Linked DNA regions of Homo sapiens. The protein of the gene in region 5 purifies or fractionates together with the protein of the main gene of each other region. This does not show direct contact. Each region holds a gene or a part of one and is shown on either strand. Other genes may lie near its edges.

Region 1 (4,218 bases), on a different chromosome or scaffold from region 5:
TTTTTAAGGACAGGAAAGTGATTGTGAAAACAATGAAGACTTATGTTGAAAAGGTGGCTAATGTAAGTATAATAAAACTACATATTCTAATTATTTTTGATAGTAAGATGAATTCATGTCTATTATAGAAAATTTGGAAAAATTCAGAAAATTACCAAGCAGAAAATTATTGTTTTATTATATTTTTCTTTGCATCTACATGTATTTTCATATTTTATCTACACAAAATGGAAATCATGTCACATGCATTCTTTTCTCCTTTTTTAATTTAACATTGTATTGTGATAGTTCTCTACTTTTATTAGATATTCTTTGAAAACCTGATATTTACTAGCTTTTTTGGTGAATTTGTCCAGTCATGTTAATTAAATATGGGAATTACTGCCTGGATACAGTATGTACATATTTTAGTCTCTGGGTAAATGATGCCAGATTGCACTTCAGAAACTTGATAGTAGTTTTCCTTATGACCAAAACCATAAAAGAAATTAAAATGTATCTTTTTTTTAAGAATAAATTTGCAGTGTGGTTATGGAAATTTTTAGTTGTTAAATTTTATAGCTCTTTAGAAATGCAGTAACAATTTTCCTAATGAAATTCATAGGTACAAAAGTTTTTTCTGGGGGATTTGTTGCTTCAAAAATAGTGTTTATATGTTTTTAGTTATTAAATAATTTTTCATGCTGTTGCTATGGTGTACTGTAACTAGAATATATGTAGTGAATACAATTTTAATTTTTGAGTTATACTTTATATATTTGATGGATAACAAATTTCTAATTTATTGATGAACTAAAATTATGTAGTAATCAACTACTTTATCCTTTGAAAACATCCAGTGAGAACTACTAGCATCTGGGGAATACTTCAACTTGTTTGAAATACTAAATCAAACAAGTTAAAATTAATGCTGTGTGATTGTGTACTTGACTATTGTCTTCTGTTGGGCTAGAAATTAGAAGAATTCAGAAGGCAGCTAACGTTCCTATAATAAAGTGAAATATGGAATTCTCATATTTTTTATAATTCATAATTCAATATTCATATATATTTCATAATTCATAATTATAATATGAATTATAATGTTATATATTATATAACATTATATTATTATGTTATAAATATAAATATAATTCATAATTATAATTCATAATTCAATATTAAGTAAATTTTTTTGCGTGACATTCTAATTTGAATACCTTACATTAAAATGAGTAAAAACTAGAATGTTAATAGAAAATTCACAAAGGTATTAAGAGTATAACATTTTAAAATAATAAAATTATATTGTTTTAGTTCTACAGTTTGTTTATGTCAGGTAATTTAACACTAAGTACATATCTTTTTAAATCTCGAAGAGTTACTTCTAAAGGGGTGATAAGCTAACGTTACCCATGGATTTGATCCATGGATTATTTGGAATTATTAATTTCCAAATATTGGGGGTTTCTGGATATATTCTATATTCTTTTGTTCCTTTTAAATTTACTGAGACCTGTTTTATGGCCTAACATATGGTCTAAGTATTTTGAAAATAATATATTGTAGAGTTGTTTGGTGGGGTATTCTATATTTGTCAATTAGATCAAAGTAGTTGACAGTGTTCATACCATCAGTGTTTTTACTGACTTATTATTTTCTAGTTCTATCAGTTGCTGAGAGAAACATGTTAAAATTTCCAACTATACTTGTGGATTTGTCTGTTTCTCACTTACATTCAATTCTGTACCACCTTCTGTTGTATTCACCTAGAAATATTTTATGCTTGGTTATGCTTATGTGTGTCCGAGTTAAGAGAACTGAAACCAGTGATTTTGTACTAGGCACGTTGTTCTATATTTTGTCTCCTTCACTTAATTCATATTATGGGTCATTTTATTTCAATATACATACATCTGTCTACCTCACTTTTCTTAGTGACTGTAATATTTCATCGTGTGCCTATACCATAATTTATTTAACCAGTCCCCACTGTTGGGCATTTTGGTAGTTTCTAGAGTTTTTAAAATTACAATTAGTACCCCAGTGAATATATTCATATGTAAGTCTTTGTACTTACATGGAAACACGTCTGCAAGATAAATCCCTAGAACTAGAATCACTGGATCAGCTCATACCTGCATTTTAAATTTGTATAGGTGTTGTCAATTGCTCTTCAAAGAAGTTGAACCACTTTACATTCTCATCAACATAAAAGCGTGCCTGCTTTTCCCTAAACCTTTGATAAATTAGTCTATTGTCAGAGGTTTTCACCATCACCCATAGGATAAATGGCATTTCATTGTTTTAATTATTGTCCTTAATTAGTTCATAAAGCATTATTTCATACATTTAAAGACATTTGTACTTCTGTTTTAGTGTGATCTGACTCTTCATGTTCTTTTTTTTTTTTTTTTTTTGAGACAGAGTCTTGCTCTGTCGCCCAGGCTGGAGTGCCGTGGCGCGATCTGGGCTCACTGCAAGCTCCGCCTCCCAGGTTCACGCCATTCTCCTGCCTCAGCCTCCTGAGTAGCTGGGACTACAGGCGCCCACCACCATGCCCAGCTAATGTTTTGTATTAGTAGTAGAGATGGGGTTTCACCCTGTTAGCCAGGATGGTCTCGATCTCCTGACCTCGTGATCCACCAGCCTCAGCTTTCCAAAGTGCTGGGATTACAGGCGTGAGCTACCGCACCTGGCTTTGCCCATTTTTAGTTGGTTGTTGGTCTTTGTATAGTAAGACCTTTGTTGTTTGTCTTCAGTTTGTCTTTTTGACTTTACAGTTAGCAACTTCGTTATTGTTTCTAATTGAAATTGTATTATCTGTGATATTTATCAGATCTGGCTCTGAATGATTGTGGGCTATTATCAAAAATCAAATTCCTATCAGAGTTTGAAACAATTATATCAACATCCAGGATACTCATGCCACAAGCTCTGGAAACAGGTTTTTGTTTTCTTTTGTTTTTGTTCTTAACATAAAGTAGGTGTTCTTTAAATGTTTGGAACAGTATTAGCATCATGGAAATAATTTTATTTCAAAAGATGAGTGTTGTGAAAGCCACATGTGTATTTCTGTGATCTCATGCAGCTATACTTTTTTTAAAGTAATGATTTTTATATCATTCTCATTCAGTGTATAATTATACTCTTCTAGTTTATTTTTTCATATTTATATTCTAATTTTGTGAGATCACTTTAAAGAAATTGAGCAATATAGAAAAGAAAATTAAAAATCATTTGTATAACCCAGAGATGACTATTACAATGCCTTGCCTTCCAGGATTTTCTGTGTACATGTATTATGTATATCGTGTGTGTGTGTGTATGTGTGTAAAATTGTATGAGTTTATATTTTCTTTTTCATGATTGGAGTATCATATATGTGTTTATATATGTAGGTTTTTTGAAGTTAATCTTATAACTTGAACTTTTAAGTATAATTTTCAAGTAGCTATTCATTAACAGTAACCTATGTAAATAGGTATTAGTTTTAGACTATTTGGTAATGAATAATGTGCTTTAAAAAAAAATCAACCTTACCTCTAGAATATAATTAATGAGGTCGTGATAAGAGAGGAAGTTCATTAAAATGGCTTTTATTCATCTTGTTATGTTAGACAAGTTGTCAATGTAGGTAATCTTTTTTTTTTTTTTTTTTTGAGCGGAGTCTCGCTCTACCTTTATGAAGATATTCCATGTGTGAAATAAGAGGGAAGATCTATGCACTTGTTTTTAACCTTTGCTGGCTTCCAATTCTTGCAGGGCCAATACTCCCATTTGGTTTTACTGGCGGCATTTGATTGTATTGATGATACTAAGCTTGTGAAGCAGATAATCATATCAGTAAGTAATCCTGATGGTCTTGAATTTAAGTTACATCGATAAACCAGTTGTGGATGTGTAAGCTTGATTTCACCATGCATGTGTAAAGACTTGCAGCTGTGCCTTCTATCAGTATTTTTGCTTACTTTTAAGTTAATTATGTTTTATTTTGGAGGTTTGTTTTATTCCTGTGTAAATCTTAACCTTGTAACTTGATATTAATACTGTTTTAAATATTTAAGACTGGTCAAATTAAGATTTAACACTTTTATTTTGGATTAGGATAACATGGTACTTTAGAACATACGTGATTCTAAACTATGGAAAATTAGCAAAGTGATATTTAGATATGATCAGAAACTAGCATAGTAATTCCTTAGTTATTCCAGAACTCAAATACAAGCAGAGAGTATC
Region 2 (3,751 bases), on a different chromosome or scaffold from region 5:
AGGTTGACCACTGTGCCAGTCAAATTTGCCAAGGCATACTGTACAACATAAGTGGTGTTGGTGGGGCTGGAGACAGCGATGTAATGTTGAAGAGGCCCGTCACCTGAGTGCAGACCAAAGGGAAGGGAAGATTTGGTGGGTGGATGGTGGGTGAAATAGGAAAAGCCCAAGATTGGCAGCAGCCAGAAAGAAGGGCAATGGAAAAGGATCCATCAAATATGAGAAGAAAGAAAGGAAAACAGGGGGTAAGAAAAACAGAGAGGAAAAAGAAAAAAAATAATAAAGGTTAAACCAAAAGACTTTTTCTCTATCCCTTTCCTCAGCTAAGGGTCCCATTCCCACACCAGATGCTTACCCAAGTAGGACCTTAGGTCCTGCCTGAGGATAGACTGGAACCATGAGTTGTTGGCTTTAATCAGGAACCCATAGAGCAGGCGGGTAACCTAGGATTGGAACAGTAAAGAGAGAAAACCCTGTGACTTGAAGGGAGCCCAGGGAAAGAATTATCAGTGGAGACCCAGTCATGGGGCAGGAACCAGACTGGCCAGATAGACTGGAGTTGGGAGACAGTAGCTGGCTCATAAGATGCAGATGAGGCCCACCCAAGAGCTCTCTGGGGCATGAGGCATTCTCACCGGCATCAACAGTCATGTGGAATTCCAAGGTTTGGGACACTAGGGCAAGGGAGGATAGGGACAGCTTGCTGTGTAAATAGAAAGAAGGAGCTAGGGCCCATCTGCTTACCGTTTGGGGATCAGCCTGAACTGTGTCGCTGAAGTTGGTTCCTCCTGCAAGCTCATACAGAGCACGTCCCAGCACCGTGGCCACATCTGCCAGGGCCTGTGGTAGGTGAGGAGGGGGCTGAATGGCCCACCTCTCCTATCCTCAAATGCTAGCATCTTCACTGTGTGCCCCAGGCTCCCACCCAGCCTGGCTCAGTGCTACCTTGGCAGTGTCTGTTACAAAGTTCAGGTCCTCTTCAGGGCTCAGCCATTCGGGATAGCTCACATTAATGTTCTCAGCAGTGTCGTAAATACTCTGGTAATATCTGCCAGGAAAGCCGGCATGAGCCTTGGCTACATTTAGCCAGGGCTCTGCCCCTTTCCTCCCTCAAATGCTCCTTATGCAGGGACTCAGTATCTCATTTTCAGCATCAGAAGAAAGGGGTGAGAGACAATCAGGATCCCATATTGCAGAAGGTGTGGAGAACAGGGAGGTAGGAGTGAGGGTGAGGTGGTTAGTGAAAATTAAAGACTTTCCTGACAGACAAGGTAGAAAAGCTGAATGAGCTCAGATCTTTAAACAAAGGAGAGACTCTTCTACATCATTTGGGCTGGAGATATGGGGGATGGCTAAGATGATTTTCAGAGAACTCTGCCATGTATCATGAGATCAGTTGTATAACTGTTCCAATGAACATTTATATTTAGGGTAGCTGGGAGCAGGAGGTGATTAGCAGGTCTTAGGATCAGGTCTGCTCACTGATATATAAGAATACACTGATAAAATCACCATGATGATCCTTATGGAGCCCCAAGGAGATAGATCTTAAAAGAGAGGCTGAGCTCCACAGTCTTTACCATCAGTAAATCCCTGTCCCACACAAAGTCAAGTCAGCTACATAATCAAATCCAAAATGTGTTCAAATGATGAATCTTCACTTGCCCCAAAGTGGTACAAGGATAGCTTTAGAGAAGACAGCTGACCCTAAGTGCTAGGACGGTCACTCCCCTAAATGAATGAGAAGGTGCTACTTGGCTGGGGTCAGAAATAGAGCTCAAGCATTTTCACTACGAAACTCATTTGGCCCTCGGGAAGCTTGGCAATCCAGCCTGAGTAAGAAGTCCCCTGTTATCCAAGGCCTCAAGTTAGGAGCAGTTAAAGGGTAACCCAGAGTTACCCTTTGTATCTCTGGAGCCCCATCAGCTATAGGAGGCACTTTTACCCTCGCACTGAACCATGGCCATCTACCACATGGCAAGAACATGGTACATTTCACAGAGTATGAATACTGTTTCTGGCACCTCTGGGTGAGTTCCAGAGAAGGACTGCTTTCTGTCTTCTAGCCAAAGGGCCCCCACCATCCTTCCCATGCTTGTGTTTGAGATGATGCCCTCTGCTGGCAACCCTGAGGAACTCAGGACCCTGGAGAGCTAGGGAGCAGTGGAACCATAACCAAGGATTGTTGACAGTAAAGGGCTAAGGGTGAGGATGAGTTTCTAAGATGAATATCCAGTCAAACAAATAAGGGTTTCAGTTCAGATGTGAAAACGCCACTGAGCAAAGAATACAGATGGACCTGAAGTTCTGGAGGGGGTAGTGTGGGAAAGCGGAGGGCAGTGACCTTCCTCCCAGACTGCAGAATAGACTCTCTTCAAGAATGAAGAGGGTGCAGGGCCAAGTGATTCTTACTTGTTATGGAAGGCACCAGAGTGGTCAGCCAGAACAACGCCAGAGATGTTTCGAGCTCGAAGAAATCGCTGCAGGGAAGATGGTGGGAGAGGCTGGGACTGATTTGGCCTCCTGAGGATGACAGCAGGGACACCAGCACCACTCTTCTCCAATGTGGCCAGGAGATCCTCCACCTGGGGGGTACGAGGGAGATTAACTGATGGGAGGCTGGGGGATGGGAAGCAGGAGGTCTCTTTTAGGCCTGAAATGCTCTATACTTCAAGTTCCCTGCTTGGGGAGCTACCCTATCTCTAGTAGACCTTTATCCCTCAAGCCTTTTGGGACCAAGGCTCTCTGAATTTCCTGTAGCTTCCACCATTCTTTTTAGAGTTAGAAAATTGGGGCATAAAGAAGAGACCTTTTTTTTCATATTTATAAGTAAATTCTACTGTCTTCAAGACTCTGCTTTATCCTCAGTGGATGCTTCACTTATTATTTATTGTGCAGAATTGAAGGGAGCAAATAATAATAGAAAACTGCGTGCTGAATGCCAAACAGATAACCAATTCTTTAAATGCTACAGGAGTCCAGAGCAGGGATGATGCTGAAGGCTGGAATTGCAGAAAGAGGACCACCTGGAAAAAAGCAGGCCTAAAGGTGGACCTAGAGGGAAGGGAAGGTTTTGAACAAGCAATGAGGAAAGTGGAGGACAAGTTGGGCAGCGAGTGTGACACAGCCAGGACTTGGGTAGAGCAGCCTTGACAATTGGATCCATGGGGCAGCAAGGCAAGAAGGGAGCTAGTCACTCACCTATCCTTAATGGGCAGTGGTAGTCTGCTAGGCAACAAATGATCAGAGAACTACCCAGTCCAGGGAACCAATGGAATGTCACTGAGTTCCTGATTCTTCCCAGCAGCAACAACAGCTGTGGTGTTCATCCTTTGGCCAACACCCAATCCAATCCTGTCTCTTACCCTGTCTCACAGGCCCTGGGGGTTGGTGGAAACAGGGCAGGGGTTGGGGTCTGGATTCTGAGCTGTAGGAATAGGAAATGAGGGGAGATGCTCAGGTTACCTGGTTCCGTACAGACTCATTTTTCTGAGAAACAGGATCTGTGTGCATCCAAAGCTCTAATGAAGTTCTTAAGGCCACCTGGGGGGAGGATGAAGAAACAACACTTAGAATCAGTCTCCTGTTCTGGGCCATGCCTAGGGGATAGAAGTCAAGGGAAGAGGCGGTGGTTCCTGCAGTTAAGACCGCAGAACAACAAAGGAGGAAGATTTAATTAAAAAGGAAGGGGCTGGGGGACATGCCACATACCTGTCCCAGCTCCACAAATGAGTCAACATTCTCTAACTGC
Region 3 (4,218 bases), on a different chromosome or scaffold from region 5:
GGCTGGCTAACGGCACGTGCTGCCCGAGGGGACTCCGACAGAGCCCAGACATCCCCAGGCTCACGGGGAACTTTGTACTCAGGCTCCTTTGACCTAAAGGGCCCACACTTCCTGAGTGCCCACTGTGTACCAGACACTGAGGCACACGGAGGCTAAGCCACTTGCTCAAGGTCACAGCAATTAAGAGGTAGAGCTGGGACTTAAGTCCCATCTGACTCTAGAACCGAAGCTCTAAACCTTTCTCTAAGCCTCAGTCTGCGCACCTATAGAATAGACACGATACCACCCATTAAACTGCCCTGAATCAAAATGAGATGATGTACAAGGAGCGGAGACCAGAAACTAGGATTAATCCTGAGATTTTAAAGGTGACAGGTTTTCCAGAGCATCTGGGAAATCCCATCTTCTCTCTATGGGGCCAACAGTACCCTCCTCAGTGAGCCAGAAAGCTCACTCTCATGGCTCTGCCCCTTCCCACTCCATGAAACGCCCGCCAACGGGGAAAGGCACAGACGGGAAGGGCTGCGGGGAACTTGTATGGGGTTTCACCAGAATCCAACCACCTCTGCTCTCCCCTCCCCTTCGTGGGACAGAAAAAATACCCCCATCCCTGCTCCTGATGAAGATGTCCCTAGGGAAGGAATGATGGCTAGAAAAGGTCTGAGAAAGGGACAGTTGTCCATCCTACCCCCGTTCAGGGCCTGTCTGCTGAGTAAGATGCCAGTGCTGAGTGGGTGGGAACCAGCAGAAGACCTGCACCCCGTGCCGGCTCACACCCCCACTCCAAGGCAGGCTCACCTGCTTGGTGAAGTCCTTGATGATGCTGTGCTCAGACACCTGGGAGCCAATGGCAAAGCGGCGCTTGAGCTGCTTCTCGATGCGGCTCAGCATCTCCTGGTCCTCCTGGCTGGTGAAGCCCTCCACCCCTGTGGGCATGGAGAAGTGAGGCAGCCGGGGAGCTGGGACAATGGGAGTTCTTGGACAGAGACAGCCTCTAGCCCAAGGAAGAACAGCCTGAGCCAGGCCCCGAAGAGTAAGTCAGAAAAGGGCACCGAGTGTGCCAGGGTGGTGCAGGCCTGATTGAGGAGACAGGATATGGCACATGTGGGGACACTCCAGGCCAAGCACAAAGTCACAGAGGCAGGAACACACCTGTCTCATTCAAAAAGCAGCCCGGGGCCCAGCGCAGCAGAGACATGGCCAGAGTGTCACTAGGGACCAAGTCCTGCGGGCCCTTGGAGGCCACAGCAGGACTCCTTTTGTTGCTGGAGCAGATAGATTAGAGAGAGAGTTGGAAGGGGCCCATCAGTGACCCAGGAGGGAAGCCAGCCTGCCCTGGACACATCTACGAGGTGCCCTGAGGAGCCCTCGGCAACCAGGAGGCTCGTGACTTCCAATTACTGCCACAGAGGCCTTGGTGTTTCAGCTAAGGAGATGGTGGGCTCATGGTCAAGAAGTCATTGAGAGGGGAGTCTGTGAGGCAAACTCCTACATAGCCCATAAGACCCAACTCAAATTATCACCACTCCATATCACCCCTGCCCTCTGTGCCTGCAGCATCCCAGAGGCCTCCACCTGCAATGTCTCATGTGACAGCAAGTGTCTCCAGGGTAGAGGCTGAGTCTTCACCAAGGGGGACAGGAGGAACAGGCCCCACCCACCCCATTCCTCACCCAAGTGCCTCCCCATTCAAATGCACCAAACCTGCTCCCTCCTGGGGAAACTGACACTTAGCGCTGCCTCCACCTGAGCAGCTCTTCCCCCAAGGAGCCACACTGTCCCCTTCATGCAGCTCCCTGCTTGGCATCACCTCCTTGCAGAGGCCATGCCCACTCACTCCATGGGAAAGAGCACGTCCTCCTTTTCCAACACACCTGGCCCTGCCATCATCTCCCTCACTGCCTTTTTCACTACCTACACTACCTGCATTTGTTTCTCTACTGTCTATCTCTCCCCAACTAGAACGAGAATGAGAACCCAGGAGGGCCGGGACCCTGTGATTGATTGCTCTTATACTCCCAGCACCTAGAACAGTGCCTGGCAAACAGTAACACTAATGAAGTATCTGCTGGGTGAAGGAACAGATTTTCCCCAGCGTAGGTAGCCTGGCTCATGATCGGTGCCTGGGACAGTCTGTTGAAAGGCTGACCGAAACCAGACAGTATGGCTTATGGTGTGGAAAACGCTGGCCTAGGGGCCAGGAGACTTGCATTCCAGCCAAGCGACTGTGATCTTGGGCACCAGGGAAAGGCCCCTTCGAGTGTCAGCTGTCTCATTTCTAACATGGGCAGGACTGACTGCTCACCTGGCTTCCAGGGGGCAGCTGTAAGGCAAAATGCAAGAAATAACTCTGGAAGCACTGAAAATGCTGACAAGCTCTAGGAAGCAGAGCATCAACTGTTGTTCCTAGCCAGTGAGAAGGGTTATCATCAATGACCTGGGTCAAGAGGATTGTGTTCAAGGGTCTGGAGAGAAGCTGCTTCTTCCCATCTTGGAGGAAACAGCGGTGGGGAGAAAGGAGGAGAGGGGTCTTATGGCAAAAAGAAACTCAGAGAAGCTCAGCAAACTCAGAGAAGCAAGACACACACTGCAGGCCCCCAGCAGGCCAGAGCCCTGCCCACAGAGCTCCGAGCCAGGGAACCCAGATCAATTGAGACCATGGCCCCTGCATCTGCTCACCTGACAGGGTACCGGACAAGGCAGCATCCAACGTGGACACTTGGAAGAGCCGCAGGGCCTCCTCCACATCTGCCTCTGTGGCGAAGGGCTGCAGCTTCATCTTGCTGAGGGCTTCCGCGATGCGCACAATGGCCTCCAGCTGCCTGTGGGGGCAACAGCGTGCTCAGGGTAGCCTCGGTCCGCTATTCCCTTCCTCCCCAGCCAGCCCGTTACCAGGGAGGTGCTTGCCCAAAGTGGTAAGACTGTGGTGGAGACTGCTAGGTGTCCCCATAATCCATCTCCCTTTTGATCTTAGTCATAGAACTGCAATTTTTTTTTTTTTTTTTTTTTTTTGAGACAAAGTCTCGCTCTGTGGACCAGGCTGGAATGTAGTGGCATGATCATAGCTCACTGCAGCCTCGAACTCCTGGGCTCCAGTGATCCTTCCACCTCAGCCACCTGAGGAGCTGGGTCTACAGGCATGCACCACAATGCCTGGCTAATTTTTTATTTTTTGTAGAAATGGGAGTCTTGCTATGTTGCCCAGGCTGGTCTCAAACTCCTGGCCTCAAGTAATCCTCCTGCCTCAGCCTCCCAAAGTGCTAGGATCACAATGTAGGCCACTGCACCTAGCTTGGAACCCCAGTTTTTAGTCTGGCACACAGCGATCCACTAAAACACATCCCAGACATCTTTTGTACCAGGTTGTATTTGTGTGACCAATCTATGGCAGTAAGTTGTAAGTCCAAGCATTGTGTGGGACTTCATGAAGTGTCCTTTAAAAGGGAAGCTCTCTTTCCTTCCTGTCCTGCTGCCTGGAGGTGATGGCTGAAGTTCTAGCGGCCATCTCGGACTAAGAGTAAGGGGGAGCTTGAGGAGTCCTCACACCAGTCCCCATACCATCTTCCTCCAGACAGTGCTACAGAAAAGAGAAATGAACTTCCTATTTCTTTAAGCTACTTTATCTGGATTTACCATTACTTATAGCCAAATCCATTTCCAACCAGTCAGTGCTGGAGACAGGATTCAAACCAGGTAAATCCCAACTCTTACCCACTGTATTGTCTACAAAGTCACAAGAATGAACAGAGTTAGGAGCTAAAAGCACTGAGGGCCAGAGAAGGAATGTAATTTCCCTACAGTCACACAGTGGGCTAGAGGCTGGGACCCAAGACTCTTGACTCCCAGGCCTGGGTCCTTCCCTCCCTTCGGGCTTCCTACAATGGGAGAAGCCAGGCCAAATTCAGACAAGAGGGGTCTAGGTTTGCCCGGCCTTAAATCAAGAAACATGGATCATCATTGAGATCAAGGAGGCCATAGTTTATGCTCCAAAGGGACTCTTCCTGCCCAGAGCTACTATGGGCCTGTGCCAAGTGAAAAGCCTGGACCACTGCCCCTGGTTGCCAAGCACACCCTGCTGTGTAAAGCAAGCCCCATCTGCCATGGCCCAGCCCTGCCCGCCTGCTCACCGCACAGTGATGGGGATGCTGGAGCGGCGGTCACTGTCCCTCTCGTGCTGACGGGCCCCGCTCCGCATGATGATGTAGCGGTTCTTCAGTT
Region 4 (4,218 bases), on a different chromosome or scaffold from region 5:
CGAAGTGCTGGGATTACAGGCATGGGCCACCATGCCTGGCTTTTTCTTGAGACCGAGTTTTGCTCTTGTTGCCCAGGCTGGAGTGCAATGGCACGATCTCAGCTCACCGCAACCTCCGCCTCCTGGGTTTAAGTGATTCTCCTGCCTCAGCCTCCCGAGTAGTTGGGATTACAGGCATGTGCCACCACACCCGGCTAATTTTGTATTTTTAATAGAGACAGGATTTCCCCATGTTGGTCAGGCTAGTCTTGAACTCCTGACCTCAGGTGATCTGCCCGCGTCAGCCTCCCAAAGTGCCAAAGTGCTGGGATTACAGGCGTAAGCCACCACACCCGGCCACCTGGCTAATTTTTGTATTTTTAGTGGAGATGAGGTTTCATCATGTTGGCCAGACTGGTCTCAAACCCCTGACCTCAAGTGATCCACCCGCCTCAGCCTCCCTAGGTGCAGGGATTACAGGTGTGAGCCACCATGCCCAGCCATCAAGGCTCATCCTCACCAAGTTAGCTTTCAATTGCTACAACATCTTTTTTTTTTTTTTTTTTTTTTGAGATGGAGTCTCACTCTGTCGCCCAGGCTGGAGTGCAATGGTGCGATCTCCACTCACTGCAATTTCTGCTTCCTGGATTTAAGCAATTCTCCTGCCTCAGCCTTCCGAGTAGCTGGGACTACAGGCATGCGTCACCACGCCCGGCTAATTTTTATATTTTTAGTAGAGACGAGGTTTCGTCATGTTAGCCAGGCTGGTCTTGAACTCCTGACCTCAGGTGATCCACCCACCTCGGCCTCCCAAAGTGATGGGATTACAGGCGAGAGCTACGGCGCCCGGCTGCTACAGCATCGTAACAGAGGCAAAGGCGCCCCCTAGAATGCAATGCAACTGCATCTGGAACATGAAAAGGTATACTCCTCACCATAAACTGATACTCTTGGTGTATGCATCTGCTCTTATGGGTTTTGTTGGTATGAATCAGTCTTGCCAAATCTGCTGAGTAACCAGATAGACTGTACCTCTTACTTTCAAAGCTGAAGACCAGATAGAGAATGCCCACACCAAGGCACACCCATCTTGGGAAGTCCTGTTATGGGGCCATTTATTTATTTATTTATTTATTTTGGTGAGGCAGAGTCTTGCTCTGTCACTTAGGTTGGAGTACGGTGGCACAATCTTGGCTTACTGCAACCTCTGTCTCCCGCATTCAAGTGATTCTCCTGCCTCAGCCACCCAAGTAGCTGGGTTTACAGGCGTGTGCCACTACACCCAGCTGATTTTTTGTATTTTCAGTACAGAGGCGGTTTTGCCATGTTGGCCGGGCTGGTCTAGAACTCCTGGCCTCAGGTCATCTACCCCCCATTGGATTTCCAAAGTGCTGGGATTACCCAGTTACTTTTATTTAGTCATATGCCCCATCCTAGTGTCTTCAAAGTATCAAATAAAACATATTATCAAGTGTCTGAGTAGAAATTAGGGAGATGTTTAAAAGTAAGTCACATTAGTGAAGAATGTGCCCATGTGCAGCATACTGTTTATGATTAACACCCACTTGATCATGGTCATCTGACAACCAGCACAACAAATCTAAAACAAGGGTTGTCATTAGAAATTTTTAAAAACCTAAAAATCAAAAACAAGAGTTGTCATATGAAATGAAGTTATTCTGCATGAAAAACCATGTGAGAAGACTTGCAACCAACTTCCTACACTGGGATAACAAATAGCTCAGGAAAGCTTAAAGAGAGGTTTAGTGCACAGAGTCCCTCTACTTTAGAGACCTCAGGGAACCTGGCCACAGCCAACATGAAGCTAATATCAGAATATCTGAACACTAAAGTAAGTAGGATGCTCAAATAAATGTTTGAATTATCAGAATGGTGCCTTAGCTTTTCCATTCTGAAATTATGAATTATCTTCCTTGACGTGAAACAACCAGAAACAAAAAATGTTAAGGTTTGTTTTTGAGATGGAGTCTCACTCTGTCGCCCAGGCTGGAGTGCAGTAGCACTATCTCAGCTCATTGCAGTGTCTGCCTCCCAGGTTTCAAGCGATTCTCCTGCCTGAGCCTCCTGAGTAGCTGGGATTACAGGCACCCGCCACCACACCTGGCTAATTTATGTATTTCTAGTACAGATGGATGTGATTTTGTCACGTTGGCCAGGCTGGTCTCCAACTTCTAATCTCAAGTGATCTGCCCACCTCAGCCTCCCAGAGTGTTAGGATTACAGGCGTGAGCCACTGTACCCGGCCACTTTTTTTTTTTTAAATAAAGGTAGGATTTCACTTCTATTTCTTTTCTTTTCTTTTTTTTTAGACGGAGACTCGCACTGTCGCCCAGGCTGGAGTGCAGTGGTGGGATCTCGGCTAACTGCAAGCTCCACCTCCCGGGTTCACGCCATTCTCCTGCCTCAGCCTCCCGAGTAGCTGGGACTACAGGCGCCCACCACCACACCCAGCTAATTTTTTGTATTTTTAGTAGAGACAGGGTTTCACTGGGATTTCACTTCTATTTCTAACATTCTTCCTCATAGTACCAGGCATCTATTGCCTGAGACTTCTTTTTTTTAAGAGAGAGGGTGTTATTTTTCATTAAATTTTCTTTACATTTGTCTATAATAACTAAGTCCAAGTGCTTACAATAAAATCATGATTACAAAAAGGGCATCATAAGAAATAATAAAAACTTCCTTTAAATTCCCGCTGGAGTCAGCTTGAATGAATACTAAAAAGCGAAGTCTGAGCATTTGCTGTTGTAGCCCCCAACATTCTTATCCAGCACCTGTGTGTGTGTTAAGGTGATTCCTCAGGAGGGTGACTGTTCTGAATGCCCTGCCACAGAGATGGCACTTGTGTGGTCTCTCATCAGTGTGGCTTTTCATGTGACGATCCAAATTTGAACGCCGTGGACACGTGTAACTGCAAAGCTCACACTGGAATGTCTTCTTTACACCTATGTGCAAAATAAAACACTTACTTGCTGCAGAGTTTCAAAGTGTTAAGATTAATCCTAATCTTAAATTTCTACAAATATATTTGATTAGCTTTTAATAACAAAACCCAATATAAGTCATAATTATCTCATGTCACTAATACATTTCCTTCTTCTTTGGGATTAAAAAAAGAGCATTCAATCTGGAAAAAACTTATTTTAGACTGGTTTTAAAGAACGGTACCCACATAACGACCTTTTACAAATACGGTTAATATAAAACAACTTGCATATGCACTGTGTTGTATGCTTATCCCAAAATGGTTTTATGAAACCACTATGGATAAACTCGTTTTACCTTTCTTTTTAATTTTTGTTGGCTTTGGAGGCTTCATATTACCAACCACTTTCTCTGCATTAACCTCTGATAGCAGACCCTCCTGCTGTTCTTCCTCAAAATCGTAGACAGACACATCTACATCTTTGCCCTCCTCTGTATAACGCAGTTTGCTCTTTTTGGTTTTCTTTGTTTTTTTGGCTGGTGGCTGATAGTCTGGGTCTTTTTGCCAACTAGGATCTTCCTGGGGTGGAAGTTCCCCTTGTTCTAGTGTCTCCACCTCTCCATTGGCCCCCACTTTAACCACCTGAAACCCTTCAGGCAAAGGTAGGGTGTGGCATATCATGGGTTCACTTTCCGCAAGGCCCTCTTTAGACACTTCATTTTCATAAGCCCCCTGAAGTTCTTCTACTGAAGTGGTAGCAACAGGTACAGTCACAGGAACAGGTACTTGAACAAGCTGAAGTTCTCCTATGTTTATGGGCTGTTCCTCCATATTTACAACCTGTAAAGTTATAATCTGGGTATCGTCCACAGCAGCCTCTGCTTCTGGAGCCACTGTGCCCTCCATTACTTCAGTCTTCATCTGAAGAAGGGTGGGGTCCAGCTGTTCCATCATCACCATCTGTACACTGCTGTTGACATCCTGGACCACCTCACCCCCATCCGTCTGGTTCTGGGGTAAGTGGCAGGCATCTTCTTCCTGGCCCCCTTCCCGGCGTCTCTGGTAAGTCTTTCTCTCCTTTCCTTTAATAAAAGTTTCGGACTCCTCCACAATGGCTTCGACTGCATCACCTTCCATTTCCCCTGCCTTTATTAAGGGAGAACACAGATTGTTATTTAAAGCAAAGCATGTCTAAATAAAAATATACATTTTAAAACAAAAAGACCCTTTGGTGAATGAATTAGGCATCAATGGTTGTTAATATTAAAAAAGACACAACAGACATGTGCCTC
Region 5 (4,208 bases):
GAGGACAGTGCCTGCTGATGCTGCGCCTTGGTCTGCGCCTCCCCCAGCACGCGCAAGTTCTAGGGAAGGGTGGCCAGGCTGAGGCACTCCGGAGAGCTGCTCAAAGCCTTTCTGTTTCCCAGCCGGAAGTAAAGCCCAGAGGCAGGGACCGTCTCCTGGGACAACCCCAGTTCTCCCGACTCTGGACTCAGGCTCCAATCCTCACTTCTTTCCCAGAGATCGGTCTCCCGGAGAACTGATTCTGAGGGGGTGGGGAAAGGGCGCCCCCCGGCTGTTACCTCGGTGACCTTTGCTAGGACCTGGCCCATCAGCTGCTTCCACTCGGGGTCCTCAAAGCACGACCTCACCTCCCGCATGGACAGGGTCTTCTGGAGCAGCAGGCAGGCCTGTGGGTGGGCAAAGGTGGGTGGCAGGAGCCTTGGCACGTTGGGTGCTCACGGCTCAGGGATGCATGAGGGCTCGGGGGCCCGCTGGGCACTGCTGTGGGCAGCGTGTGAGGCTGCCTGCTGCTCTGGGCTCTGTGACTACCTGCTCCTGTGCCTTTGTGTGCAGGTGGGGACACCAAGGCCTCCCAGCTGGATAGAGGTGGGACCTCAGGTTGGGACAATTCCTGCCCATTATTGGCTTAGTGCCATCTTCCTCCAGCCTGCCCCCAACAGCCCTGGCACCAGAGCAGACACTACCAGGGGCATCCTGTGTGTGGCCAGATGGGCAGCAGTGGCTGCGGGAGTGAGGCTGGCCCTGCCCCCTCAGCTCCTGTGTGTTCACTGTGTGGCAGGGGCCAGGGCACGGCCACCCCCTTCAGAGACCATGTACCCACAGCCAAGCCAGTGGGGCAGGGACAGCTGTGCCCGTGCTCACCAGGACAGCGCTCTGGGGCCTCACAATATCCAGTCAGAAGAGGGTTAAGCGGGTTAATTCAGACAGGCCCTGGGCTGGGAGCTGGGAAGTCTCTCACCTGATGACGGGGCCGCACCGGGCCCGTGATATGCTGGACCAGGATGGGGAGCAGGCTCTGACAGAGCACCTGGTGGGGAGTGACAAGGGCTGTGAGGTGCAGGCTGGGCTGAGCAGGGACCATGAGGAAGCAGGGCAGGCCCCAACACTCACCGGGTGCCGGGAGAAGAGGCTGAGGAACATGGGAACTGTGAGGGGGCTGTTGCGCTTGGTCAGGAAGGAGCTCAGTGCTGTCGAGTACACCCGGGTCACCAGGTTCAAGTCCAAGCAGCTGGCAGCCTAGGCCAGGGGAGAGCGAGCTGGGTGAGGCCAGGAGAGGGGTCCCTGGGATGGGAGCAGAGCCTGGCCTACCTTCATCAGAAGGCTGAGGGTTGGGCCCTGGGGAAGTCCCGGCCTCCACTCCCTGGCTGTGAAATGCCTGGGGCTGCTCCTGGGCCAGGCCCTGCTCACCTGCGGGCCCGTGGGCATGTGGCTGGGGTCAGTGCCAGCTTTCTGCTTCTCCTGTGTCTCATGCACGCAGCCCTCAGCAGTGTTGCCCTTCAAGACCCGGAGCAGGTAGAGAGAGGCGTTGAAGTGGTAGAGGGCGGTGGGGGAGTCGGGCTGGCGGCCAGCCTGCTGCACCAACCGCTCCACCTGGGCGTGCAGGGCCCCTGCGCGCTCACCCAAGTCGTGGCAGTAGCGCCGGGCACGGCACAGGTGGTGCCTGTGGGTGGTGAGGACGAGAGCTGGTCAGAACATTCTCGGTCCACCCTGCTCCGCCAAGCAGAGCCAACCCAAGTCCCACTTTATAAGTGGGGAAACAGACCTAGAAGACGACAGAGGCGACCCAGGCCACAGAGGAGGGCCCAGGGCCGCCTGCAGGCTGCCTGGAAGCTGTGTGGGCTCAGAGTGCTGGGGTGACAGGGGCGCTCCAGGGGAGAACAGAACAGCTCCCTGAGTGGAGGCTGCACCAAGGGCCAACTGCCTGCCTGGGGCACCCCTCCTGTCTACACTTGTCTCTCATGGGGCAGTGGCCTTCAGGCCTTTTGTAAAGCGAGACAAGGGTTCATGTGCTTAGAACCCTCTGTGGCCCTGCAGGGCCGGGGATATAATGGGGGCAAGAGGCAGGATGCTCAACAAACGACACTGTCCACGCACGCTGGCAGAACTATCTGAGAAGGCGTGGCCCGGGCGGGCCTGGGTTTGTGAAGAATGCACTGCCAGTCACACTCCCCACCCCTCCTGACTATCCACGCAGCGCCCCAGCTCCCAGGCCTTCACCTCCCCAGCACCTGAGCTCTGAAGGCAGGTCTACCAGGTGCCTGCCTGTCTCTCCCACGCCTGCCACCGCCTCCCTCCTGGGCCCTCTGCCTCCAGCACAGCCCCTCCCAAACCCTTCTCCACGCTGCCAGCCGTTTCTGAAAAGGCAAACCAGACTCAGACCCTTCCCCACGCCACTGCTCTTGCTGATAATGCCTCTGTGGCCTCCAGCACCGCTAGGGTCAGGGCCTGCGAGGGTGCGGGGGTCTGTGGCCTCGCTGCTTGCCTGACCTTCCAGCTGCGTGTCTGACCAGCTCCCGTCAGGATGCTCTTCCTCCCTTTCTGCCCTGCCCAAGGCCTCCCAGCCTGACAAACTCCCATGCACACTACACCTCCGAGGACTGGGTTGGGTGTCCCCTGCCACAGGTGCACCCACTGTCCCCCTCCACCCCAGCACAGCCCCACTTGAGACTGTCAAGGGCAGGGATGGACCCCAGCTCCAGGGCACTGTTGGCACAGCCCCACTTGAGACTGTCAAGGGCAGGGATGGACCCCAGCTCCAGGGCACTGTTGGCACTGTGTCGGGAGAACGCGGGGATGAAGCAAGGACTGTGGGAATCACTAAGTGACGTGTGCCTCTAGGGCTGAGCAGTGAGCCTGCGAGCTAGGGGCCCAGGCTGGAAGCTTGGCTCTCTCCTTCCTGTGCAGACAGCAAGCCTAGAGCTCTGGCTCTCCTGCGCCTGGGGGCTGCCGGCCACACCTGCCCGCCCTGCACCCCCGTGCTCACGTGAAGATGCGCGCCGTCTTGTGCAGAAGGTCCTGCTCCTGTTTGGAGCTGCTGCTGCGCAGGCTGCGCCGGATGATGCTCAGCAGCGGCTCCAGCAGCTCCAGGACCAGGGCATTCTCGGGCTGCTTGGTCACTAGCACCTCCACCAGGTCCAGCACCTGCAGCCAGGAGGGCAGGTCAGCAACACGGGGGTGGGCGCACAGGGAGGCGGGGGTGGGCGCACAGGGAGGCGGGGGTGGGTGCGGCCCGCCCCCAGGCTCACCCGGATCTGGAAGTCGCGCCGCAGAGCCTTCTCCTTCTGCAGCTTGTTCTTCTCGTCTCGCCGGGCCTGGATACGCAGCTTCTGCTCGGCAAAGAGGCTGGCGAGGCTCTGGTCCAGGGCCATCATGGCCTCATCCCCCAGCTCCTCCTCGTTCTCACTGTCCTCTCCACCCTGAGGGACAGAGGCCCAGCGGTCAGCCAGGCCTCGGGCAGGCACACAACATGGGGACACCCGAGCCCTCCCCGGCCGCCCCCCCCTCCACCTCCCCCACTCACCAGCGCCTTCCCAGCCTGCAGCACGGTCATCAGCTGTTCCCGGAAGCCCTGATCCACGTCCCCGTCGCGCTCCTCCTCCTCGCTCTCCTCCCCCTCGCTCTCCTCTTCACTCTCTGAGCTTCTGTTGTCCTCACCTTCCTCGCTCTTGTCCTGTGTGGTAGAGGCAGGCGCGTCACACACCTCCCCGATCGTCCCACTCCCCACCGCCCCCGCCCGGCCCATGCTGGCAACACCTCTGCACCCTTCAGCCGCCGCTCATCAGAATCGTCCGTCACCACCACACGGTCATTCTCATCCTCACTGGTCTCGGGGTTCAGCACCTGGGGAGGGGTGCCAGCCACTGACCCATTTGCAGCCCCCGCCCTCCTCTCCAGGCCCCACTCAGCCTTGACCAAAGACCTCCATTTCCCAGAAGAAAACGGAGCCTAGGAGAGGCGGCCAGGCCAGGCCAAGGCCTCGTTGAGACCCCTCCCACCGGCCGCAGGCTCCCGGCAGGGAGGCTGGAGGCTGAAGCGGCACCCCTGGTGCAGCTCGCTGCTCAGTGAGCCCCAGCCCACATTCCACTCCCAAAGGTCCCAACTCACATCCAGAATTAGCTGCAGGGCACGCGGGGTCAGGTGGGAGCAGATGTGGCCAAACACGCTCCGGGCCACCTGGCGCATGAGGTGGCTGGGCTGGGCCAACAGGG
Region 6 (4,218 bases), on a different chromosome or scaffold from region 5:
GTGGAGGTTGCAGTGAGCCGAGATGATACCTCTGCATTCCAGCCTGGGCAACAGAGCAAGACTATCTCAACAAAAAAAAAAAAAAAAAAAAAAAAAAAAAAAGCAGAGGCAATCTAATGAAGGTTTAACCCTCAGCAATCATGTTCATTCAGGGGAAAAGACCCCAATGTATTTAAATAGATTTTCTTAGCCTTTATTGTCTGGGAGACATGACACAAAATTTCTATCATAATAAAATGGCCAGTTTTGCTTCCATTACTGTTATAAACCCACATAGTCATCACACTTCTTTCCCAAATTAGATTCCAGATTAAACAGATGCCAGATGGGTTACAGATTTGATATTCAGAAGACTAATTTTTAATCGAAAGCAAACACTTTCTCAAATAGATTTTTCCACTTTTGCTTCCAGTAAATATACTTTGAGGGAGTTCCCTGAGTCTACTTCTTTAACAAATAAACATATGTAATCCCAGAAAATATACAGCAATTAACAGCCTGCAGAAATTTTTCTCTACTTCCATTTATCTGGTGACATAAATCACTGTTACATCAACCTTATTCACCAGTATGGGAATGTAAACACTTAAAAAACAAATTAAGCTATTTGCAGTAATTCCCATTTTACCACTTTAAAAATATTACTTTTCTCTGCAGTAAGGTTTTCTAGTTCAGAGCATTAAGCTGTCAACAAGACAGATATCCAAGCCCATCCATCCCGTGGCATTTGATAAGATCAACACAGCTATATATTTATAATCCTATTATCTCCTTAGCAGGTGAGAACAATGGATTTGGCCAACATTATTCAAGCTTCATAATACTGTATGGTAAAATGTTCATGACAAAGAGCAGAAGGTATGCCGGGCACAGTGGCTCACGCCTGTAATCCCAGCACTTCGGGAGGCCGAGGTGGGCGGATCACAAGGTCAGGAGATCGAGACCATTCTAGCTAACACGGTGAAACCCCATCTCTACTAAAAACACAAAAAAATTAGCCAGGCATGGTGGCGGGCACCTGTAGTCCCAGCTACTCGAGAGGCTGAGGCAGGAGAATGGCATGAACCCAGGAGGTGGAGCTTGCAGTGAGCCGAGATCACACCACTGCACTCCAGCCTGGGTAACAGAGCCAGACTCCGTCTCAAAAAAAAAAAAAAAAATAGTAGACGGTGTTCAGCACCATGAAACAGGGAGGCAAAAATAGAAAGTAGATGGTATCTAAAGAGATGTACAATAAAACTTCATAAACTTTGTTATATGTTTGAAATTTTTCATAATAAAATGGTGGGGGTAAATAACCATAGCAACTAACATGTCCTCTCATAGTTCAACTGATAACTGGCAATTTATATTTTTTGGAACAGCACAAATGGTATACAGCCTTGACTCTGGTGAAGTTTTATTTAAAGAAAAGCTCATGTAGAAAATTACACGAGAAGCATTTCAACCACAAATGTCTCCATCACCAGAAGTCAATGTAAAATAACCTGTTATAGGTCTAGTGTGAAACAAATCTGTCATAAAATTCTCTAAACATTTTTGAAAGCTCTAAAATCCCATTCTGAGAGAAAAGCAACTCCAAAGCTCTTATTTGAGAGGGGAGGAATTTATATTTCCTCAAATTGAACAATTCTGTGTCACTGGGTATCACATCAAATAAGAAGATCCAATTTAGAGGCTCATGAAAACAAGGCCTCTGCCTATAATCCCAGCTACTAAGGAGGCTGAGGTGGGAAGATGACTTGAGCTCAGGAGTTCAAGACCAGCCTGGGCGACAAACTCTGGGATTGACTTGTGGAATCCCACAAAAAGATACCCTTTTCATGAAAGTTTCATCTTTATACTGAATTACACTCTTACTCAATCCAGTAAAAAGGCTCAAAGAAAGTTGCCCCACAAACTGAGACTACCTTGTGGTATTGGGGAGAGAGACTGGATGAAGCAGTATCCATTTTGATAACACCCAGAATGATATCAATGATCTGGACTTTAGAATGGGGATGGAGGAGAGTTCCATGAGTCATGGCCATTTCTAAACTTAAAATACAGTAAATCCTCTCTTAACATAAGGGGTAGGTTCTTGGAAACTGAGACTTCCGACTAACACACGCTTATTGATACAAACAAGAGTTAGGTTCTAGGGCATATTTCTCATCAGAAAAATATCACCAAACTTTTAAATAAAGACCAAACACTTCGAATATTAAACACTGAAATAAATGTGAAGTATACATGCCTTTTTTTTTTTTTTGAGAAGTACTTTTGCTCTTGTTGCCCCGGCTGGAGTGCAATGGCACGATAACCGCTCACTGCAACCTCTGCTTCCCAGGTTCAAGCAACTCTCCTGCCTCAGCCTCCTGAGTAGCTGGGATTACAGGTGCCCGCCACCCAGCCCGGCTAATTTTTTTTATTTTTAGTAGAGACAGGGTTTCGCCATGCTGGCCAGGCTGGTCTCCAACTCCTGACCTCAGGTGATCTGCCCACCTCAGCCTCCAAAAGTGCTGGGATTACAGGCATGGGGTTGCAGTAAGCCGAGACTGCACCATTGCACTGCAGCCTGGGTGACAAGAGCTAAACTCCATCTCAAAAAAAAAAATTTTTTTTTTTACCACTTATTCCAGTTCAGGGTTGGGGTGGCTGGAGCCTATCTCAGCAGCTTAGGGTGCAAGGCCGGAACCAGTCCTGGACAGGACATCCACTGCAGAAAGCACTCACACTTACACACACAGCTCCACACACCAGTGAACCTCACGTGCACAGCTTTGGGATGTGGGAGGAAATCAAGAGTACCCAGAGAAAACCCATGCAGGGATAGGGAGAACGTGTAAACTCCACAGACAGTTTTTTTTCTCAACATTATCTTGAAACAACATTATTCAAGGACCTGCTGTAATCTGTATATACATGGACTTTCTGGCTGAAACCTAAAAGAGAGCAACTTATTCTCAAGAAACTATATTTATGGTAACAATTCTCAATGCTTAAAAGTTTTACGTTAAGCTTAATGGGAAGCACTACACATTTTTAAAAATGTGTTGTGTCCTTTCCCAGATACTAAATTGGCGTTTCTTTCCTAAATCAATTTTAAGAGGTGTATCTTTCCCCATCTTCCAGGTAGTCATAACTAAAACATAACATGTAACATTTCCACTGTACCTGATCAAGCTCAAAGTACACCTACAAAACTCAAATAACAGACCTAAAAGCTGAAAACTATTCACGACCAGAAATTTGAAAGTTATGCAACAAAGACATTTATAATATTTATAATATTCCTGTCAACTTCCATTGTAAGAGAGATCCTTTAGACACAAGAAAGAAAAACGTGAACACTTATGCTGTGATTTCATACTATTCACAAAAATTAAGGTTTCATTCATATTTGCTAAATTTGTTATTTGGAAATAGGGCAGACGGGGGCACTTTGGAAAACAATTCTATGTTAGAAGATTATCTTTTGCTTAATTCTTAACCTAAGGTAACAGCAGTATCTTTACACAACTACTGTAAAGAAACATTTTAAGTTTTCATTATGAATTATTAACTGTAGTTTAACTTTGACACAAAGTTATCTCTATTAAAGTGGGTTAAAAGGCAGGTCTCTGCCAAAACAGGACTGGGGAAATCTGTATTTGTTCGCTTTTCAATTATAGTCATTAATAGCTCAAGAATTTTTGCTTTTGTACACAATAAAGCAGCAAGGTTGTATTTTGATTTTGAGGAGCTGAAGGCATTGGATCAAGAGTTAATTTTCTTCTTCTTTTCTGCTGTACAGAAATCATGTATAAACAGAGAAGGGAAGCCCAACAAACAAAAATGAGAACTATTATTCTACTAAAAGTAAATTTTGTGACCTTAATCTGGGGCAATCTGGTAAAAGTCAAAATCGCTAATGTTGTGACACAATGTTTAAGATTTGTTTCAAAATAATCTAGTTTGTGTGGGGGGATACAACATGAAACAAAACCGACCTTGGCTATGAGTTAATAATTGTCAAAGCTAAGTGAGTGACTAACACATGGGGTTCTCCATACTATTCGAGTTTCGCATGTTTTCCAGAATAAAAGGTTTTTAAAAAATGGTATTTAAAATACCATTTCCCTATTGAAATATGCCATTGTGATATGGCAGTATTAGACATGCTTTATACTGCTTGTATAGTTGTTTGCTTATGTGTTTTTTTTGTTTTGTTTTTTTGGAGAGAGTCTCTCTCTGTCG
Region 7 (4,218 bases), on a different chromosome or scaffold from region 5:
GGGGAAGTGGGGAGGGGGATGTGGGGGAAGTGGGGAGGGACTGCTATCATTGATTGATTGATGGTGACAGGGTCTTGCTCTGTCACCCAGTTTGGAGTACAGTGGTGTGATGATGGCTCACTGCAGCCTCGACCTCCCAGGCTCAAGGGATCCTCCCATGTCAGCCTCCTGAGTAGCTGGGAATATAGGCATGCGCCACCATGCCCAGCTAATTTTTTTTTTTTTTTGAGACGGAGTCTCACTCTGTTGCCCAGGCTGGAGTTCAGTGGCATGATGTCGGCTCACTGCAAGCTCCGCCTCCTGGGTTCACGCCATTCTCTTGCCTCAGCCTCTCGAGTAGCTGGGACTACAGGCGCCCGCCACCACGCCCGGCTAATTTTTTTGTATTTTTAATAGAGACGGGGTTTCACTGTGTTAGCCAGGATGGTCTCGATCTCCTGACCTCATGATCCGCCCGCCTTGGCCTCCCAAAGTGCTTGGGATTACAGGCCTGAGCCACTGCGCCCGGCCCCAGCTAATTTTTTATTTTTGTAGAGATGGGATCTCGCCTAGGGTGTTCTTGAACTCCTCCTGCCTTGGCCTCTCAAAGTGCTGGGATTACAGGTGTGAGCCTCTGCAGCCAGCCTGGGCTGCTGTCATTTATTTCAGCATGAGTTTGTAAGAACATGACCAAGACAGATTCCAGATTTCAAGGTTATTGTTGTTTAGGATGAAGTCACGTGATAAGTGTGAGTGGGCTGAGTTAGAGTGAGGCAAGCCCTGGGACACTGCAGAAGTTGTGGGGACAAGGATGGCTGCGGTTGGAACTCCAGGGAGTGAAGGCCCCCTCTGACCCAGTCCTGCCCTCTACCCTTCCAGGCTTTTTGAAATGGGTTTCGCAGAGCAGCTGCAGGAGATCATCGCCCGCCTCCCCGGGGGCCACCAGACGGTGCTGTTCTCCGCCACGCTGCCCAAACTGCTGGTGGAATTTGCCCGGGCTGGTGCGTGAGCTGGGGGTGGAGATGGGGGCTGGGGGTCAGGCTGGGGCCTGGGGGCCAGTCCCTCTGCGACTCCCCCACTTTCCCCCATGTCTCCTGCAGGCCTCACGGAGCCCGTGCTCATCCGGCTTGACGTGGATACCAAGCTCAACGAGCAGCTGAAGGTGAGGCTGCACCTGTCCCATCCCAGGAGGTTGTGTCCAGGTGGGCCCTGCAGGCCCTGGGCCAGGACCCCGTAAGCCAACACGTGATGCCCTCTCCCCACAGACCTCCTTCTTCCTCGTGCGGGAGGACACCAAGGCTGCCGTGCTGCTCCACCTGCTGCACAACGTGGTGCGGCCCCAGGACCAGACCGTGGTGTTTGTGGCCACGAAGCACCACGCCGAGTACCTCACTGAGGTGAGCAGGGTCCTGAGTGGGAGGAGCACCTCCTTCAGCTGGAGTTTGGAGCTGCAGTTCCCTGTGCAGTCACTAGAGGGCAGCACGAGAGCGGACCAGGAGCCTGGGCCTGGGCTCAAGATGGTCATTTTTATTTTTATTTTTTATTTTTTTGAGACGGAGCCTCGCTCTGCCATCCAGGCTAGAGTGCAGTGGCACAATCGTGGCTCACTGCAGCCTTGACCTTCCAGGCTCAAACAATTCTCCCGCCTCAGCCTCCCGAGTACTTGGGACTTCTGGCGCATGTCACCATGCCCAACTAACTTGTTACTTATTTTTATATTTTGTAAAGACAGGTTCTCACTCGGTTGCCCAAGCTGGTCTTGAACTCCTGGGCTCAGGTGATCCTCCCACCTTGGCCTCCCATAGTACTGGGATTATAGTACTGGGATTATGAAAACATTTCTTTTTTTTTTTTTTTGGAAATGGTATCTCACTCTGTCGCCCAGGCTGGAGTGCAGTGGCACGATCTCAGCTCACTGCAACCTCCACCTCCCAGGTTCAAGTGATTCTCCTGCCTCATCCTCCTGAGTAGCTGAGACTTCAGGCGCCACCATGCCTGTCTAATTTTTGTATTTCTCATGGAGACGGGGTTTTGCCGTGTTGGCCAGGTGGGTCTTGAACTCCTGACCTCAAATGATCTGCCCGTCTCAGCCTCCTAAAGTGCTGGGATTACAGGTGTAAGCCACAGCGCCTGGCCTAAACTTTTTATTGTGAGAAAATTTCAAACCAATTCTAAGATCAGAAAATAATATGATGAACCCCGGGTACTCGTTATCTAGGTACAACTGTTACCAGCTGATAGCTGGTCTTGACCTTCATCCGTTAGTTCCCCTTACATCCGGGTTATTTTGAAGCCTGTCCCTGCCATCCTGTTATTTTCCTGTAGATTTTTAGTATGTGGTTTGTTTGACTTCTTAAGATTGAGGCATGACCTGCATGTAGCAAGCTGTGTGAAGCGCTGTTAGCATGTGTGAGTGGCTCAAAGATTTTTTTCATATGTGTTATGCCTGTGTGACCCCCGCCTGGGTCAAAGCCTGGGGAGTCGCTGTGCCCCAGAAGGCAGTGGGGCCCCTTTCCGTTGGTGCCTGCCTCCCTGTCAGCTACACCTGGGTCTGTTATCTGAGGACATGGTTCACTGGGTTTCACTTACTCCACACACAGTTAACAACACTCCCTCTGTGCAGCTGCTGGGGTCACCAGTGAATAAGACCAAAATAGTAATTTTTAAACAGTTGTTTTTTTAGAGAGAGTTTTGCTCCTTTGGCCAGGCTGGAGTGCAATGGCATGATCATGGCTTACTGCAACCTCTGCCTCCTGGGCTCAAGTGATCCACCCACCTCAGCCTCCGAAGTACCTGGGACTGTAGGCACAAGTCATGCCTGACCATGCCAGCTCATTTTTTATTTATTTTAATTTTTTTTGTAGAGATGGTGTCTTGCTGTGTTACCCAGGCTAGTCTCGAGTTTCTGGTCTCAAGTGATTTTCCAGCCTTGGTTTCCCGAAATGCTGGATTACAGGCGTGAGCCACCATGCCCAGTTTAAATAGTAATCTGTAAAGAACAGCTAGCACTCTCATGAGTGTTCCATGTTGAGACTCTGTTCTCAGCACTGTATATACTGACTCATGTGATCCTCATAATAAGGCACAAAGAAGGGGCAGTTATTCGTACAGATGAGGAAAATGAGGCATAGAAAAGTTTGGTAACTTGCCCAAGGTCACACAGCTTGTTTGTAGCAGAATCCGGATAAGGCTTGTGCACTGAGGTGGCATTTGCAGCTTCCCTGAGAGGGCCCTCTGCACACATCATCTCTGATCCTCAGACAACCCTGCAGAGAGGTGGGAGGTGTTGTAAGCTCCATTCCTCCCCAAACTGGCATCACCCAGCAAGCTGGGATTCAGACCAAGGGTGCCAGACTCCAGAACCCGTGGTCTTGTCTCTGCACCTCAGTGCCCGTCCCCCGCCATGGTCTGGCTTCCTTTCCTTTCTCCTCCAAGTCTCCTTCTCACTTTGCTACCATCTTTGCTCTGAGCAGCTGCTGACGACCCAGCGGGTGAGCTGCGCCCACATCTACAGTGCCCTAGACCCGACAGCCCGCAAGATCAATCTCGCCAAATTCACGCTTGGCAAGTGCTCCACTCTCATTGTGACTGACCTGGCCGCCCGAGGCCTGGACATCCCGCTGCTGGACAATGTCATCAACTACAGCTTCCCCGCCAAGGGCAAACTCTTCCTGCACCGCGTGGGTAAGCAGCCCGTGGCTGGCCCTGGGGCAGGCAGGGGTGCCGGATCCTGGCAGAAGCCGAGGGTACAAGGCTTAACTCTTGACACTGCACATGGGGTGGCTGTGGGCCTTGTTTTAGAGACAGAGCCTCGCTATATTGCTTAAGCTGGTCTCAAACTCGCGATCGTGCCACTGCGATCCAGCCTGGGTGACGGAGCAAGATCTTGTCTCAAAAAAACCAAAAAAAAAAAACAACCCAATTATTCAGCTTATGGTTTTTTTGACTTTACAATAGCACCCATACAGCTGTTCTATTTTTTTCTTTCAGTACAGTATTCAATAAGTTACATGAGATACTCAACACTTTATTTTAAAATCGGCTATGTGTGGGATGATTTTGCCCAAGGGTAGGCTAATGGAAGTATTTGGAGCATGCTCAAGGCAGGCTGGCTGAGCTGCGATGTTTAGTGGGTTAGGTGCCGTGCGTGTGTTTTTGACGGCTATTGGGTTTATTGAGACGCAGCCCTTCGTAAGTCACGGAACAGCTGTGGTCTCATTTCAGAGATCACTGTCCCCC

The links.
Region 1: the proteins of MYBBP1A (region 5) and PUM3 purify together in Homo sapiens (affinity purification with mass spectrometry; 2 studies listed by BioGRID and IntAct, with this or other methods). This does not show direct contact.
Region 2: the proteins of MYBBP1A (region 5) and NCSTN fractionate together in Homo sapiens (co-fractionation; one large-scale study listed by BioGRID). This does not show direct contact.
Region 3: the proteins of MYBBP1A (region 5) and MCM5 fractionate together in Homo sapiens (co-fractionation; one large-scale study listed by BioGRID). This does not show direct contact.
Region 4: the proteins of MYBBP1A (region 5) and CTCF purify together in Homo sapiens (affinity purification with mass spectrometry; 2 studies listed by BioGRID and IntAct, with this or other methods). This does not show direct contact.
Region 6: the proteins of MYBBP1A (region 5) and STAU1 purify together in Homo sapiens (affinity purification with mass spectrometry; 2 studies listed by BioGRID and IntAct, with this or other methods). This does not show direct contact.
Region 7: the proteins of MYBBP1A (region 5) and DDX54 purify together in Homo sapiens (affinity purification with mass spectrometry; one large-scale study listed by BioGRID and IntAct). This does not show direct contact.

Annotation. Positions count from the first base shown.
Region 1 is NC_000009.12:2,819,625-2,823,842, reverse strand, and holds part of PUM3 (pumilio homolog 3), read left to right. Parts: intron 1-8; coding exon 9-62; intron 63-3,744; coding exon 3,745-3,825; intron 3,826-4,218. UniProt on the Homo sapiens protein: Inhibits the poly(ADP-ribosyl)ation activity of PARP1 and the degradation of PARP1 by CASP3 following genotoxic stress. Binds to double-stranded RNA or DNA without sequence specificity. Involved in development of the eye and of primordial germ cells.
Region 2 is NC_000001.11:160,352,952-160,356,702, reverse strand, and holds part of NCSTN (nicastrin isoform 1 precursor), read right to left. Parts: coding exon 3,712-3,751; intron 3,544-3,711; coding exon 3,466-3,543; intron 3,381-3,465; coding exon of another isoform or gene 3,372-3,380; exon of another isoform or gene 2,609-3,371; intron 2,586-2,608; coding exon 2,413-2,585; intron 1,049-2,412; coding exon 946-1,048; intron 841-945; coding exon 745-840; intron 444-744; coding exon 356-443; intron 104-355; coding exon 1-103. UniProt on the Homo sapiens protein: Essential subunit of the gamma-secretase complex, an endoprotease complex that catalyzes the intramembrane cleavage of integral membrane proteins such as Notch receptors and APP (amyloid-beta precursor protein).
Region 3 is NC_000022.11:35,419,922-35,424,139, reverse strand, and holds part of MCM5 (DNA replication licensing factor MCM5), read right to left. Parts: coding exon 4,128-4,218; intron 2,823-4,127; coding exon 2,680-2,822; intron 927-2,679; coding exon 799-926; intron 1-798. UniProt on the Homo sapiens protein: Acts as a component of the MCM2-7 complex (MCM complex) which is the replicative helicase essential for 'once per cell cycle' DNA replication initiation and elongation in eukaryotic cells.
Region 4 is NC_000016.10:67,610,678-67,614,895, reverse strand, and holds part of CTCF (transcriptional repressor CTCF), read right to left. Parts: intron 4,073-4,218; 5' UTR 4,064-4,072; coding exon 3,283-4,063; intron 2,946-3,282; coding exon 2,775-2,945; intron 1-2,774.
Region 5 is NC_000017.11:4,541,506-4,545,713, forward strand, and holds part of MYBBP1A (myb-binding protein 1A), read right to left. Parts: coding exon 4,105-4,208; intron 3,841-4,104; coding exon 3,754-3,840; intron 3,671-3,753; coding exon 3,521-3,670; intron 3,417-3,520; coding exon 3,246-3,416; intron 3,142-3,245; coding exon 2,984-3,141; intron 1,661-2,983; coding exon 1,408-1,660; intron 1,237-1,407; coding exon 1,111-1,236; intron 1,028-1,110; coding exon 959-1,027; intron 387-958; coding exon 279-386; intron 60-278; coding exon 1-59. UniProt on the Homo sapiens protein: May activate or repress transcription via interactions with sequence specific DNA-binding proteins. Repression may be mediated at least in part by histone deacetylase activity (HDAC activity).
Region 6 is NC_000020.11:49,181,696-49,185,913, forward strand, and holds part of STAU1 (double-stranded RNA-binding protein Staufen homolog 1), read right to left. Parts: intron 1-4,218. UniProt on the Homo sapiens protein: Binds double-stranded RNA (regardless of the sequence) and tubulin.
Region 7 is NC_000012.12:113,171,798-113,176,015, reverse strand, and holds part of DDX54 (ATP-dependent RNA helicase DDX54), read left to right. Parts: intron 1-858; coding exon 859-980; intron 981-1,079; coding exon 1,080-1,141; intron 1,142-1,244; coding exon 1,245-1,376; intron 1,377-3,452; coding exon 3,453-3,663; intron 3,664-4,218.